Linked DNA regions of Homo sapiens. The protein of the gene in region 1 interacts with the protein of each later gene in a biochemical or structural test. Each region holds a gene or a part of one and is shown in the gene's direction. Other genes may lie near its edges.

Evidence for each region. Proteins that work in one complex are often made in the same cells at the same time.
Region 2: the proteins of MAP3K8 (region 1) and TNIP2 form a complex in vitro, tested with the Homo sapiens proteins (one study listed by BioGRID).

The regions. Positions count from the first base shown.
Region 1 is NC_000010.11:30,450,893-30,458,239, forward strand, and holds part of MAP3K8 (mitogen-activated protein kinase kinase kinase 8), read left to right. Parts: intron 1-745; coding exon 746-852; intron 853-7,191; coding exon 7,192-7,344; intron 7,345-7,347.
Region 2 is NC_000004.12:2,753,168-2,760,645, reverse strand, and holds the start of TNIP2 (TNFAIP3-interacting protein 2), read left to right. Parts: upstream 1-4,309; 5' UTR 4,310-4,356; coding exon 4,357-4,632; exon of another isoform or gene 4,633-4,697; intron 4,698-7,478. UniProt on the Homo sapiens protein: Inhibits NF-kappa-B activation by blocking the interaction of RIPK1 with its downstream effector NEMO/IKBKG.

The DNA.
Region 1 (7,347 bases):
CCAATGTGGTGAAACCCCGTCTCTACTAAAAATACAAAAAAAAAAAAAAAATAGCTGGGCATGGTGGTGGGTGCTGGTAATCCCAGCTACTTGGGAGGCTGAGGCAGGGGAATCATTTGAATCTGGGAGGCGGAGGTTGCAGTGAGCTGAGATGGCGCCATTGCTCTCCCAGCCTGGGTGACAAGAGCAAAACTCCGTCTCAAAAAAAAAAAAAAAAAGCAATTTACTTAAAAACATACAAACACAGAGACAAGTATTTTTGAGAAACAAATACCTTTTTCATTTTTTATACCAATGTAACAATAATCCATTAAACACACCTTTACTAACTGTTTTCTAGGAGTCTGATATGATGAGGAAATAGGTAAACCTTTAATAGCCAGTACTAAATTAGAGTGGCACAACTTTCACTGGGAAAAAAGATGGGTATTTTACTTTTCTGTTTTAGAAAAGTGGCTTGACAACAGTATGCTTATGTCTTAGAGTTTGAAATTCAAGTTCTTGAACATTATTAATGGCTACAATCATTCATACCCACATTGGCTGTATTCTTGATGGATCCAAAGTGATTTTCACCTCAACTCTGAATTTCATTCTCCTCTTTTGAATATAATACAACCATCTCACTAGAGGAAGCATTTCAGTCTTTTCTGATTGGAGATTCATTATTGTTTTAGATAATGTTTTCATTTGACTTATGGGTATATAAAAAATTTTATCTTAAAAATATTTCCTCTCATTTTAGCTAGCAACATTGTTTTCATGTCCACAAAAGCTGTTTTGGTGGATTTTGGCCTAAGTGTTCAAATGACCGAAGATGTCTATTTTCCTAAGGACCTCCGAGGAACAGAGGTAATTATGTTCACATGAAAAGGGTTACTATTTTATTAAGAATAAAAAGGAAAAAATGTTCTAGAATTATTGTGGGAACGAAGGACAAAGAAGGGGAAGAAACCCACTGCATTAAATCATTATTTTCCTTGGAACACATTTAATGAGCACTTGCTCTGTGTCAAGTACTAAGTTTAGCACTTGATTTTTTATTGTATTTTTTGCTATGTTATTTATAATACATAATAGTATTTGTAATATAATATACATGTTGATATATATAATATAGAACATTTGTACACAATGTCATGTCAAAATAGATCACATTGGCCAGGTGTGGTGGCTAATGCCTGTAATCCCAGTGCTTTGGGAGGCTGGGGTGGGAGGATCAATTGAGCCCAGGACTTTGAGACAAGCTTAGGCATCATAGCAAGACCCCATCTCTATAAAAAAAAACTGGTTTAGGCTGGGCACGGTGGCTCAAACCTGTCATCCCAGCACTTTGGGAGGCTGAGATGGGCGGATCACCTGAGGTCGGGAGTTTGAGACAAGCCTGACCAACATGGAGAAACCCCGTCTCTACTAAAAATACAAAATTAACCAGGCGTGGTGGCGGGCACCTGTAATCCCAGCTACTCGGGAGGCTGAGGGAGGAGAATCATCTGAACTCAGGAGGCAGAGGTTGAGGTGAGCCGAGATCGTGCCATTGCACTCCAGCCTGGGCAACAAGAGTGAAACTCCATCTCAAAAAAAAAAAAAATTAGCTCAGTGTGGTGGTACACGCCTGTAGTCTCAGCTAGTTGGGAGGCTGAGGTAGGAGGATTGCTTGAGCCCAGGAGTTCAAGGCTGCAGTGAGCCATGGGCATTCCAGCCTGGATGACAGAACGAGATGTTGCTTCAAAAAAAAAAAAAGCCCCCCAAAATAGATCATATCCACAGTTCGGCTTTATTTTGTGTGTTTTTGTTTTTGTTTTTGAGACAGAGTCTTGCTCCATCGCCCAGGCTGTAGGACAGTGGCGCATGATCTCAGCTCACTGTAATCTCCACCTCCTGGGTTCAAGCGCTTCTTAGTCTCCTGAGTAGTTGAGATTACAGGCATGTGCCACCACATCCAGCTAATTTTTTTTTTTTTTCAGTAGAGATGCAGGTTTCACTATGTTGGCCAGGCTGGTCATGAACTGTTGGCCTCAAGTGATCCTCCCACCTCAGCCTCCCAAAGTGCTGGGACTACAGGTTTGAGCCCCCGTGTCTGGCCCACAGTTCAGCTTTAATAATAATTATAGAATTAGAGTTAACTTTATAATAAGTTTAGCACTTAAAAAGCAGTATGTTATTTAATCCTTACAACAACCCAGTTGTTGCTATTGTTATTCTTATTTTACAATCAAGGAAATAAGTTTGCAGAGATTAAAATAAAGTGTCCAGAGTCACTCAGTGACAGACCCTGGACTTGAACCCAGTTCTTTCTAAGTCTAACCCTAAGGTCTAACTGCTACATAACTTTAAAAAATTATAATATTACATACATTATTAAAATATATTAGTGATATAACTAATATCACTGAGTTTTGGCTCAATGACAGTCTTAACTATGGTCATTAATATTTATGAGGACTCTAAAGGCCTCTCTTTGAGCCTAGGAATTCTATAATAAACCTCAAGTAGTGAGCATAAATGTATCTTATTTAAAGATGTAAAACAGCACTCATGTTTAACTCATCTGTGAAGCAAAAAACGACCCAGAAAAGCCTTTCTTTCCTGACTCTAAATGAGATTCTGAAAAATGCGTTCGCGGGCTTCCAAGTAATGTATTTAACATTCACATCATTAGGCTGACTGGGTGATTCAATTAGCCAGTGTCCACTGGGCATCTGCTATGTGGCAGGTTCTTGTGAGCACCAACGAGGAAGCATGACACAAGGCAGTGAGGAGCAAGCCTTAGTGGTACTCCAGCGATCCTCACTCTTTGGTGGGAGGACTTACTTTAAATTACCTGAATTATTAAAAGAGCAACCGTTTAGGGATGGGCGTGGTGTTCTCACACCTGTAATCCCAACCGTTCGAAAGGCCAAGGAGGTGGGGGTGGTTTGCTTGAGCCTGGGGGTTCGAGACCAGCCTGAGCAATAGAGTCAGACCTCATCTCTTTTGAAAAAAAAAAAGAAAAAAAGAAGGAAGGGAGGGAGGGAGAGAGAGAAGGAAGGAAGGAAGGAAGGAAGGAAGGAAGGAAGGAAGGAGAAAGAAAAAGGAAGGAAGGAAAGAAAAAGAAGGAAAGAAAGAAAGAAAGCATGCACAACAGTTTAGTTCACAGTTGATTGTGATGGGCACAAGGTTGGATGCAAGCAGGAAGGTAAATGGGTGTAAAAGCTGCCTCCTTGGCCCCTCACCACTACCGGGGGAAGCTGCACTGCCTGAGCCACTCAGCCCCATGCCCTTCTCTTTGCTGGAAGTGCCCATAGGAAATAGAGAGAGGGTCTTTGGCTGCACCTCTATGTCAGGATTACCAGGTCAGTCTTGGTGTTCAATCAGATGACAACCCTTAGTCTAGTCTAGCTAGTATACGTGTTGCACTGAACTGGATTGCAGCCACAAAAAAATTGTCTTCCTTTCAAACCAGATTCTTCCAGCCTGGGCAACATAGTGAGACCCCATCGCTACAAAAAGTAAACAAACAAACAAACAAAAACTTTACTTTTTGTAAAAATGGCATGGTGGTGCATGTCTGTAGTCCCAGCTACTCAAGAGACTGAGGTGGGAGGATTGCTTGAGCCCAGGATGAGGCTGCAGTGAGCTGTGATTATGCCACTGCACCCATAGCCTGGAAAATAGAACAAGACCTTGTCCTAAAAAAAAAAAAAACGCCAAGATTCTGTAAGTCCTTTCTCAACTCTCTCAAAGCCAGCACTCTCCCGGGCAGCAGAAGAAATCCTTGCTTTTGTGAATATTACTGAAGTTATTATTGAAAATGCTCGAGCGAGGATTCTTGACGGTTGTCTTTGAGCAGAACAATATTCAGAAGGGAAGCTGTACTTTTTTTTTTTTTTTAAGAATGCTTAGTCCCCAGATCTTAAGAATACTTTACCAAAGTGTGAGGTCTAATAAGACTTAATGCTTACGACATGTTTTCTTTGGAAAATGTTTCAGCATATTTGGCATTAGTCAGGAGTTCAGATATGTAATATTCCACCACCCTTTTTCCTGGAACCAGTTTGAAAAACAAACTATTTATGGTATTAAAGATGGAAAATACTTTTCTCTTCCTGGCAATGTGGTGAAGTTGAACATTTTGCAACATTGGAGAAAGAAGTGTTCTTTCTGGGGCTGTCTAGCGGAATGCATGGATATGAGATAATAACATATTTTACTCCTGAGTAGTATTTGGATCAGGTTTTTTTTGGCAAATGCAAATTGCTTTTTGTGAAGTGCAAAACTGTGCCTTGGTGTTTATAAATATAAACTCTCTTCTAATCAGCCTGCATTTAATATCTGCCTAGTACACACGAGTTGAAGTTTGATAATGAACAAAGTTGTGAAGTGACCAGTGAAACCTTTCAACAAGCTTGCTTTTACCCTTCCTACTTAAAGAGCCAGGAGATCTAATTAGTCAACTGTGCAGACTGGCTGATGTTAGAATTTGATCATGTGGCTACTGCACAGTCATAGACAATTTCTGATTTCTGCAGTATAGCTCCCAAATGCAAACCCTGGTTACCCCTGTTTGATTGCTCTCTCTAAGCATTGGTATTCAGAGCATTCTATTGTAACCATGTAATACACATCCAGGGTTAATCCAGCATATACAGAATAGACTGTTTTTGAGTTGCAAGGTACAGAGAGAGAATACATAGTGAATGCGAATAACAAATCAGAATTACTTTTAGAACTTGGTCCTTTTTGAAAAATCCTTCTAAGTCTGCTTGGTTTTACCTTTGTAAGTTAACATATAGTCATCACATGCACATATACGCACACACACGGTCTCTTTCCCTTTCTAATAAACATATTGAAAGGTGAAGGGTTCGATCGCTGACATCAAGGTTTTCTCTTGCTCCAGTGCCCTGCCCCGAGGGTGCAGAACTCTCAGAGAGCCCTGTGTTGGTCCCACCAGGGCTGTTTCATGCCTTCTAATCAGCCAGAGTGCTCGAACATTATGCCCTGCTGCTCCCTGATCTAACTGGTAGTTGGTAGAGCTTGAGGAACAAGAGCTCCGAGCCAGGAAGCTCTGGGGTTTCTACCTGAGTGGCAGCACCCAGGCCACCAGGCTTACAGATGTTCCATCCCCCCAGGCTGCCTAGGCGTGCAGTCACATAGAACCTGCAGAGCCACCTCTGCACAACCCCTGTGGGCTACACCAGCAGTGGGCACTCCGCCCAATCCTTGCTTTATTGGCAGGGAGGAGGGGGTACAGGAGAGAAGATAGGCATCCTCTATGGACAGTTAATAATACCCATTGCATTTCTTTTTCTTTTTTATTTGATTGTGGTAAGAACACTTAGCATGAACTCTACCCTCTCAACACATTTTTAAGTATACAATACACTATTGTTGACTATAGGTACAATGTTGTGCATTAATTTTTTAAGTTTGTGATATATTTAGTAGCAAAGTCCTTCTGGAAAGTCCTCTGGCTCTGCTGCAGGGAAAGCTTGAGAACGGGAGCTCAGTTTCACCTGTTTGCTGAGAGCAAAAGGAAGCTGGCCCGGAAGTGGCTTGCAGGAAGGAGTTGAGCAGGGTTAGGGTGGGGAGACTGGGCAGTTTCTCTGGTTTTTGTAAGCTAGTTCTCTAATTACTTACCCTGAAATGTGTTCCGGAAACACTGACCTCCATTCTCTTATTCACATGGCAGACAGTGTACAAGCTGTTTCAAGCGAAATACTGATAATCAGGATATTAACTACTATATGTCTGCACCAGCCATGAATACAAATCACTGGTCACCAGTGTTTGCTCTGTTCCTTTTTAAAAAAATGTTTAATTAAATTAGGTAACTAATTAATTTGTAAAGATGGGGGGTCTCCATCTTGTCCAGACTAGTCTCAAACTCCTGGGCTCAAGCAATCTTCCTGCCTCGGCCTTCCAAAGTGCTGAGATTCAGTGGCTCACGCCTGTAATCCCCACACTTTGGGAGGCCGAGGCAGGTGGATCACGAGGTCAGGAGTTCGAGACCAGCCTGGCCAACATGGTGAAACCCCATCTCTACTAAAAATACAAAAATTAGCCAGGCGTGGTAGCACATGCCTGTAATCCCAGCTAGTTGGGAGGCCGAAGCAGGAGAATAGCTTGAACCCGGGAGGCAGAGGTTGCAGTGAACCGAGATCGCACCATTGCATTCCAGCCTGGGTGACAGAGGGAGACCCCATCTCGAAAAAAAAAAAAAGCCAAAGTGCTGAGATTATAGACATGAGCCACCATGCCCCACCTCTCTTTGTTTCTTTCTTAAGTTTAGAAATAAATGCTCGTTAGAGAAACTATTTATAAAACCAGCCCTGTTTATTCAGCATGGACTCATGAGACCAAATATAACTTATACAATGTTAATATGGCTGCATTTAATATTTAGTCACTGGGCTACATAGTAGGTAAAAATAACAGATAGTTTGTAAAAATGACTCTTTAGAATCACTTCTACAATATTACACTTTATTTTTTAAGTTTTTCCCTTTCAAGAAATTTGTGTTAATACCCTATAGACTTCTATCACCTTTTATCATTGCAGATATTTAGAAGGTTAGCAGTGTAATGACAAACAGATAAAGAAGTCTGTTTGTAGTTCATTTAAATATAAAAGGAATTGGCGTTTTAGTTGAAAACTTAGCTACACCTGATCAGTGTACTGCAGAACTTTGATGAGTGGGAGTCCCTGATAGATTCCTGGTTCTAGGCTCTTTGCCACCAGATCAACCAGAAAAAGGTGGTGTTTTGTTTTGTTTTGTTTTGTTTTTTGAGACTGAGTCTCGCTCTGTCTCCCAGGCTGGAGTGCAGTGGTGCGATCTCGGCTCACAGCAGCCTCCGCCTTCCGAGCTCAAGCGATTCTCCTTGCCTCAGCCTCCCAAGTAGATGGGATTACAGGTGCCCATCACCATGCCCAGCTGATTTTTGTATTTTTAGTAGAGACCAGGCTGGTTTTGAACTCCTGATCCGCCCACCTCAGCTGGGATTATAGGTGTGAGCCACCGCGCCCGGCCAGGTGTTCTTCATCAGACTGCAGGGACACCTCCAGCAATTGCTGCATGGTTCCTGGGGAATGCCTGCATTATTCTCCTAGTTTAAGGCAAATGAGCCAATTTCCAGAACTGGATTAGGGAAATGGAAACCCACACAAAGGAGGGGAATGAAGCTGAATGTTTCCCACTTCTTTTTCAGATTTACATGAGCCCAGAGGTCATCCTGTGCAGGGGCCATTCAACCAAAGCAGACATCTACAGCCTGGGGGCCACGCTCATCCACATGCAGACGGGCACCCCACCCTGGGTGAAGCGCTACCCTCGCTCAGCCTATCCCTCCTACCTGTACATAGTA
Region 2 (7,478 bases), on another chromosome or scaffold:
ATATTCCAAAAGGTCTAGGGCCAGTCCCTTTTTTGGAACATGCAGGGTTGAACACACTAGGCCTGCTGCACTAGCCCCATCCTGCACAAATCTAGATGAGTTTCAGAACACAGAAAGTGAATGCTGGCTGGGCGCGGTGGCTCACGCCTGTAATCCCAGCATTTTGGGAGGCCAAGGCAGGCAGATCACTTGAAGTCAGGAGTTTGATACCAGCCTGGCCAACATGGTGAAACCCCATCTCTACTAAAAATACAAAAATTAACCAGGCATGGTGGCACGTGCCTGTAATCCCAGCTACTCAGGAGGCTGAGGAAGGAGAATCACTTGAACCCAGGAGGCAGAGGTTGCAGCTGAGATCGCAGCATTGCACTCCAGCTTGAGTGACAGAGTGAAATGCTGTCTCGAAAGAAACAAAGAAAGAGAATGCGGAAAGAAAGAGGGAGGGAGGGAGGGAGGGAAGGAAAAGAAAGAAATTGCTCCCTGTATCAGCTCCTGCCCAACTCTAGGCCATACCCAGTTGTGAACTCACTCAGCCAACTCTCATGCCTGGCTCCTTCTCACCCTTTAGGTTGCAGAGCTGGACTGTTATCTTGTCTCTAATCACCCTCTTTAAAGTTAGGTTCCTCCTTTTTTTTTTTTTTTTTTTTTTTTTTGAGAGGGAGTCTCGCTGTGTCACCCAGGATGGAGTGCAATGGCGCTATCTTGGCTCACTGCAACCTCTGCCTCCCGGGTTCAAGCGATTCTCCTGCCTCAGCCTCCCGACTAGCTGGGGTTACAGGCACCCGCCACCATGCCTGGCTAATTTTTGTATTTTTAGTAGAGACAGGGTTTCACCATGTTGGCCAGAGTGGTCTCGAACTCCTGACCTCAGGAGTCCTGCCTGCCTTGGTCTCCCAAAGTGCTGGGATTACAGGTGTGAGCCACCGCACCCAGCCTGTTGTTTTCTTATACACATTTTCCCCTTCCTTTCCTTACACAAAATTTCCTTACGTTGCAATTATTCTTGTTTTGGAAAAGGATCTGTCTCCACTATTACAATGTCCACACATGAGTCCCCAGTGCCTGGCCCAGTACCTAAATTTGCATTGAAGGCAAGAGCATGCTGGGCACTTCCCATGTGACCTTACTGAATATTTACAACACCCTCTAAGACAAGTGTTCTTGGAGGTCTGGGATCCCTCATCCGCAATTCTGAAATCTAAAAAGCTCAGAAACCCAAAATAGTTTTCTTTCTTTCTTTTTTTTCTCAGAGACAGGGTCTCACTGTGTGGCCCAGGCTGGAGAGCAGTGGCACAATCACCATTTACTGCAGCCTCAAACCCCTGCCTCAAGCAATCCTATCTCAGCCTCCTGAGTATCTGGGACTACTGGCACACACCATCACACCCACCTAGTTTCTTTTAACTTTTTGTAGAGATGGGGTTTTGCTATGTTGCCCAGGCTGGGCTCCAACTTCTGGGCTCAAGAGATCCTCCTGCCTTGGCCTCCCTAAGTGCTGGGATTACAGGCATGAGCCACTGCACCTGGCCCCAAAATGTTTTTCTTAAAGGTGGTACAAAATCTGACTTCAACAGCTACAAGGCTTTTTCTGATCTTCATTCATCTCGCAGTCTGAATGGTCACCCTGTCTTTGCAGAAATTGTAATCTGTCTGGTTTTGTGGTGCTGTACCATGTCCCAGTGGGAGCACTAAGTCAGATTTTAGCTGTTCATTTTCCATTGCTGCAGAACAAACTATCCCAAATGTTAGTAGCTTAAAACAATAAGCATATATTATCTCATCCAGTTTCTGTGGTCAGGGACTCAGAGCAGTTTAGCTGGGCGGTCCTGGCCCGGGGTCTTCCATGGAGTCACAGTCAGTATGTCAGTGGGGGCTACTGTCTTCTGAAGGCTTGACTAGGGTCGGAGGATACAGTCCCAAAGTGGCTTCTTCACCACAGTGGGCAAGTGGGCGCCGGCTGCTGCCATGAAGCCTCAGTTCCTTGCCACATGGACCTCTTCACAGGGTTACTTGATGATAGGGTGGGTGGCTTCCCCCAGAGAGAATGCTCCGAAAGAGGGCAAGGCAGTAGCCGTGATGTCTTGTGGGAGCTAGCTGCAGAAGTCACACTCCATCATTTCTGCAGTACCCTCTTAGTTACCCAGGTCAGCCCTCTCCAGTGGATTGGAGGGGACTACACAGGAGCATGGATATTGGAAGGAGGGGATCCTCTTTGAAAGCTGGCTCCCCCAGTTATATGTACCTATTTGAAATCCAAAGATCCTCATTTCTAAAATACACATGGCGGCCTGGCGTGGTGGCTCACGCCTACAATCCCAGCACTTTGGGAGGCCGAGGCAGGCGGATCACTTGAGGCCGGGAGTTCGAGACCAGCCTGACCAATATGGTGAAACCCCGTCTCTACTAAAATACAAAAAATTAGCCAGGCGTGGTGGCGGGCGCCTGTAATCCCAGCTAATTGGGAGGCTGAGGTGGGAGAATCACTTGAACCTGGGAGGCGGAGGTTGCAATGAGCCAAAAATCACACCACTGCACTCCAGCCTGGGCGACAGATTGAGACTCCGTCTAAAATAAATCAATACGATACAGTACAGTACAATACAATACAATACACCACACCTGACCCCAAGGCTGTTGTTGGATGAGAGACTGTGGATTGTCACATGCACCTTTTACAGTTGAGGCAGAGGCTCAAGGTAGGTCACTGGAATGACGTGCCCCAGGCCACACATTAGCCTCTAACAGCTCTGGGTCCAGTTTTGTTTTTTCCACTCATGCCCCAGACAATCAATAGGCATTGTTTGTAACCATAGCCATGGGGACTGTAGGCTTGCTGTGCAGCAGCCACTGCACTGGACAAGCATTCCATGCACACTCCACCCTCTAGTCCCCACAACAGCCCAACCAGGTAGGGTGGGCACTCGCTCTGCCCTTCCTTCTGCTGAGAGGAAGCCCAGGCTCTGATGAGTAAGAAGGAGCCTTCCATAGCAAAGCCAGGCCTGTGTAGCCCAATGTCCGGGCCATAAGCACTTGGGTGGCTCTGGCTTTGCTTATAGGCTTGTCTGATTCTACAAGCTTGTGTTTTCCCAGGCTCAGCTCAGGCTTGGCTGTGGATCACATAAGGGAAGAAAGTCAAGAAGCTGCTCAGGGGCGGAGCCTGTGGGCAAGTGCACACACAGGGAAGACCCCTGCCCTATCCTGAGTAGGGAACCTTGGAAAGACCCCATGTGTGCTTGGGCATCATTGTGGGGAAGACTGGGCTGTGGAAAAACACTAGCGTTTGTCTGGGAATTTTGGGGAAGGAAAGGGATGGAAAAGCGAAAGGGTGGGAAGGGGCTGGTTTCCTGCTGCTTCTGCTATATAAGAACAGCATCTAGCAGGAAGGTTGTCCCGTGGGCCCATACTAGCCACCTTACAAAGCAGCGTCTGCAGTGGCTGACGCCTGTAATCCCAGCACTTTGGGAGGCTGAGGCCGGTGGATCTACCTGAGGTCAGGAGTTCAAGACCAGCCTGGCCAACATGGTGAAACACCATCTCTACTAATAATACCAAAAAATTAGCAGGGCATGGTGGCGGGCGCCTGTAATCCCAGCTACTCAGGAGGCTGAGGCAGGAGAATCGCTTGAAACTGGGAGGCGGAGGTTGTAGTGAGCCGAGATCGCGCCATTACACTCCAGCCTGGGCAACAGAGCGAAACTCCGTCTCAAAAAGAAGAAAAAAAAGGAAAGAAAAAAGAAAGCGGCGTGCGGGGCAGGGGGTTGGAGCTCTTTCTGGGCTCAGTGTCCCCAGGTGACGGAACACATGCCACGTGCTTGGTGCGCTGCGAGCTCAGCTCCTGGAGCTTCTGTTGCTGCTGTGGCCGCAAGGCCTGGACCCTCGCGGGGAGATTCAGACCCACACTTAGCTCCAGAGCTTGGGGGTTGTCGTTAAGCCCTTCCTTTCCATCAGAGGCTGATGAATCCCCAAACTCCTGGGCTGAGTTCGACTCTCCGACAACTCCTCAGAGGCGGATGTTTGGGGCCACTGGAATAAGCCCAGCACCAGCTGGGGTGTGGACAGCCTCGGGGGCCAGGCCAACTCTCCCGGACGGGTGCGGACGGCAGGGGCGGGGCCGGGCTGTAGGCGGTGGGAGGGGTGGGGCCGGGCGAGAAGGGGCTGGGCGGGCTGCCGTCGGGCGGGGCTGCGCGGGGAAGGGCGGGGCTGCGCGGGGGGCGGGGCTGCGTGGGGGAGGGCGGGGCCGGGCTGTTGTGGGTGGGCGGGGCGCACCGGGGAAAGTTCCGGGAAGGGCGGCAGCCGGCGGGGCCCGGGCGCGGAAGTTGCCGGCGGCCGCGCGGCCTCCCGGGCGGGCCTACAGCCATGTCCCGGGACCCGGGGTCGGGCGGCTGGGAGGAGGCCCCGCGCGCAGCTGCCGCGCTCTGCACCCTGTACCACGAGGCCGGACAGCGGCTGCGCCGCCTGCAGGACCAGCTCGCTGCCCGCGACGCCCTCATCGCTCGCCTCCGCGCCCGCCTGGCCGCGCTGGAGGGGGACGCCGCGCCGTCCCTAGTGGACGCGCTGCTGGAGCAGGTTGCGCGCTTCCGGGAGCAGCTGCGAAGGCAGGAGGGCGGCGCCGCCGAGGCCCAGATGCGCCAGGTACGAGGGCGGGTACCAGAGGAGCTGCGGGAGCGAGAGTGCGTGTGGCGGCCGCCGGGTCCTGGGTGGGTGAGCGAGCGGGCCCCGGGTCCTGAGGGGTTGAGGGGGTACTGGGTCCTGGGGTTGAGTTGGCCTCGGGTCCTGAGGGGTTGGGGGAGCACCAGGTCCTGGGAGTTGAGGGGGTGCCGGGTCCTGGGGGTGAGGGGGCCCCGGCTCCTGAGGGGTTGGGGGAGCATCAGGTCCTGGGGGTTGAGGGGGTGCCGGGTCCTGGGGTTGAGGGACACTAGGTCCTGGGGGTAAGGGGCCGTCGGGTCCTGGGGGTGATAGGGCAACAGCTTCTGGGGGGTGAGGGGACCCTGGGTCCTAGGGGAGAGAGGGGGACCAGGTCCTGAGTGGGATAAGGGGACACCACGGGCTGAGGTGTGCTGGGTCCTGGGGGGTTTGAGGCGTCACCAGGTGCTGGTGGAGGTGAGGGGGCTCTGGGTCCTGCGGGGTGAGGGTGCAAGGTTCTGAAGGGGATAAGCGAATGCTGGATCCTGGGGGGTTGGGAGGGCACTGGGTCCTGGGGGATGGTGAGGAGGCACTGGGTTCTGAGGAGGGGGGTTGGTGCAGTTCTTGGGTTCTGTGTGTGTGTGGTGTATGTTCAGGTGGGCTCTTAGGGGTATTTTGAGGTTCGTGTGTGGGAACACATTCCGAGGGGGGTGTGTGTATGCTGTGTGTATTCTGTGTGTATTGTGTAGTGTGTATGTTCCGGTTGGTTCTTAGGGGTGTTTTGAGGTGTGTGTGCGGGAGACACATTCTGAGGGGTGTGTATGGTGTGTGTGTGTACGCACACATGTGTGTCTTGGGTCCAAGGTCGTGTACTCATATTGTGTTCTAGAGTCCCTTCCAGCCCTCACCCATGCATGTGTCTTTCACTAGTGGCGCTTCAACTCTATGCTGGGAGCAATGGCAAATGCAGCCCGTGTCTGATAAAGGACACAAATCCTAGGCTGGGTGCAGTGGCTCACGCCTGTAATCCCAGTACTTTCGGAGGCAAGGCGGGCAGATTGCCTGAGCCCAGGAGTTCGAGACAAGGCTGAGCAACATGGTGAAACCCTGTCTACAAAAAGTGCAAAAAATTAGCCGGGCATGGTGGCACGTGCCCGTGCTCCCAGCCACTAGGGAGACTTAGGTGGGAGGATCACTTGAGCCTGGGAGGCAGAGGTTGCAGTGAGCCAAGATCGCACCACTGCACTCCAACCTGGGTGACAAAGTGAGACCTTGTCTGAAAAAATTAAATTAAAAATGGACACAAGGGTCCGGACGCGGTGGCTCATGCCTGTAATCCCAGCACTTTGGGAGGCCAAGGCGGCGGATCACGAGGTCAGGAGATTGAGACCATCCTGGCTAACATGGTGAAAACCCATCTCTACTAAAAATACAAAAAATTAGCTGGGCGTGGTGGCGGGCGCCTGTAGTCCCAGCTACTTGGGAGGCGGAGGCAGGAGAATGGCATGAACCCGGGCGGCGGAGCTTGCAGTGAGCCGAGATTGTGCCACTGCACTCCAGCCTGGGCGACAGAGCGAGACTCCGTCTCAAAAACAAACAAAAAAAGACGCAAATCCTGACTTTCTTCTCTTTGTCCTTGTCTATGATGTTTATGTCTGTTTTTTGATGATAAACTATAACACCACAACAGCAGTATAAGTAACAGTTTTTTTGTGCAATAGTATTTGCAAGCATCTGAAACATTCGGGTGAGCTCTGGCATCTATTATTCCATTTGATTCATGGCTATTATCCTAGTTTGCCCAGGAAAGAAACTAAGCCTGCAAAGGCAGTAGTCTGCGAAAGATAGTTTTTGTCTCCAGGGTTGGCCCCACAGCCTGATTTTAGAGAGAAAAAGAAACATGCCCTTTTTAAAAAAGAAAAAAAATTATAAAACAATTTTGAATATCTGAAAAATAAAGAATAAAATAGCCGCTGTAGTCCCACAGTGCAGGGATGACTAGTGTTAATCTCTTGGCATGCCTTCTTCCTGTTTTTCCTCTGTGTATAAGGTGTGTGTACACTTGGCATGGTTGTTTTCATGCTGTGTATACAGTTGTACTTAATATTAGGTTGTCAGTATCTACATCATTTAAAATACTTTCAGCAGCCAGTGTCTCCCCTACTCCACTCTCTCCCTCTTTCTGGAAGGTACATCCTGACTCACTAGAGCAGAAGGGAAGTTTAGAGGTCACCTGGTCTGCACCAACAGGTTTTAGAGTTGTGGATGCCAGGAGCCACAGATGAGTACAGACCAAGGACCCGGAAGGACACTCCGAAGTCATCTCCAGAATGTTGGTGGGACAGGATGCAGGGACCTCACAACCAGAGCAGTATACTTGCAGTCGGTGGCCATTGGTGTTCCGCTCACATGTGTTCCCTGGTGTCCTGTGTATCTGGCCACTCACCAAGCAGCTTATTGCAGCTTCCTGGTAGCCTCAGATAGAATTAGTTCTGTGTTCCCAGTATTACTGGCCCTGGTCCTGTCTTCCCAACATGTAAGCATGTAGGTTTTGTTTTGGGATTTTTATTTTTTTATTTTTTTGAGACAGGGTCTCACTCTGTTACCCAGGCTGGAGTGCAGTGGCACAAACATGGCTCACTGTGGCCTCAACCTCCTGGGCTTACGTGATCCTCCTGCCTCAGCCTCCCATATAGCTGGGACCACAGGAGTGTGCCATCACACCTGGCTAATTTTATTTTTTTTTTGTAGAGACGGGATCTTGCTGTGTCGCCCAGGCTGGTCTAGAACTCCTTTCTTCAAGTGATCCTCCTGCCTTGGCCTCCCAAAGTGCTAGGATTACAGGCATGAGCCAC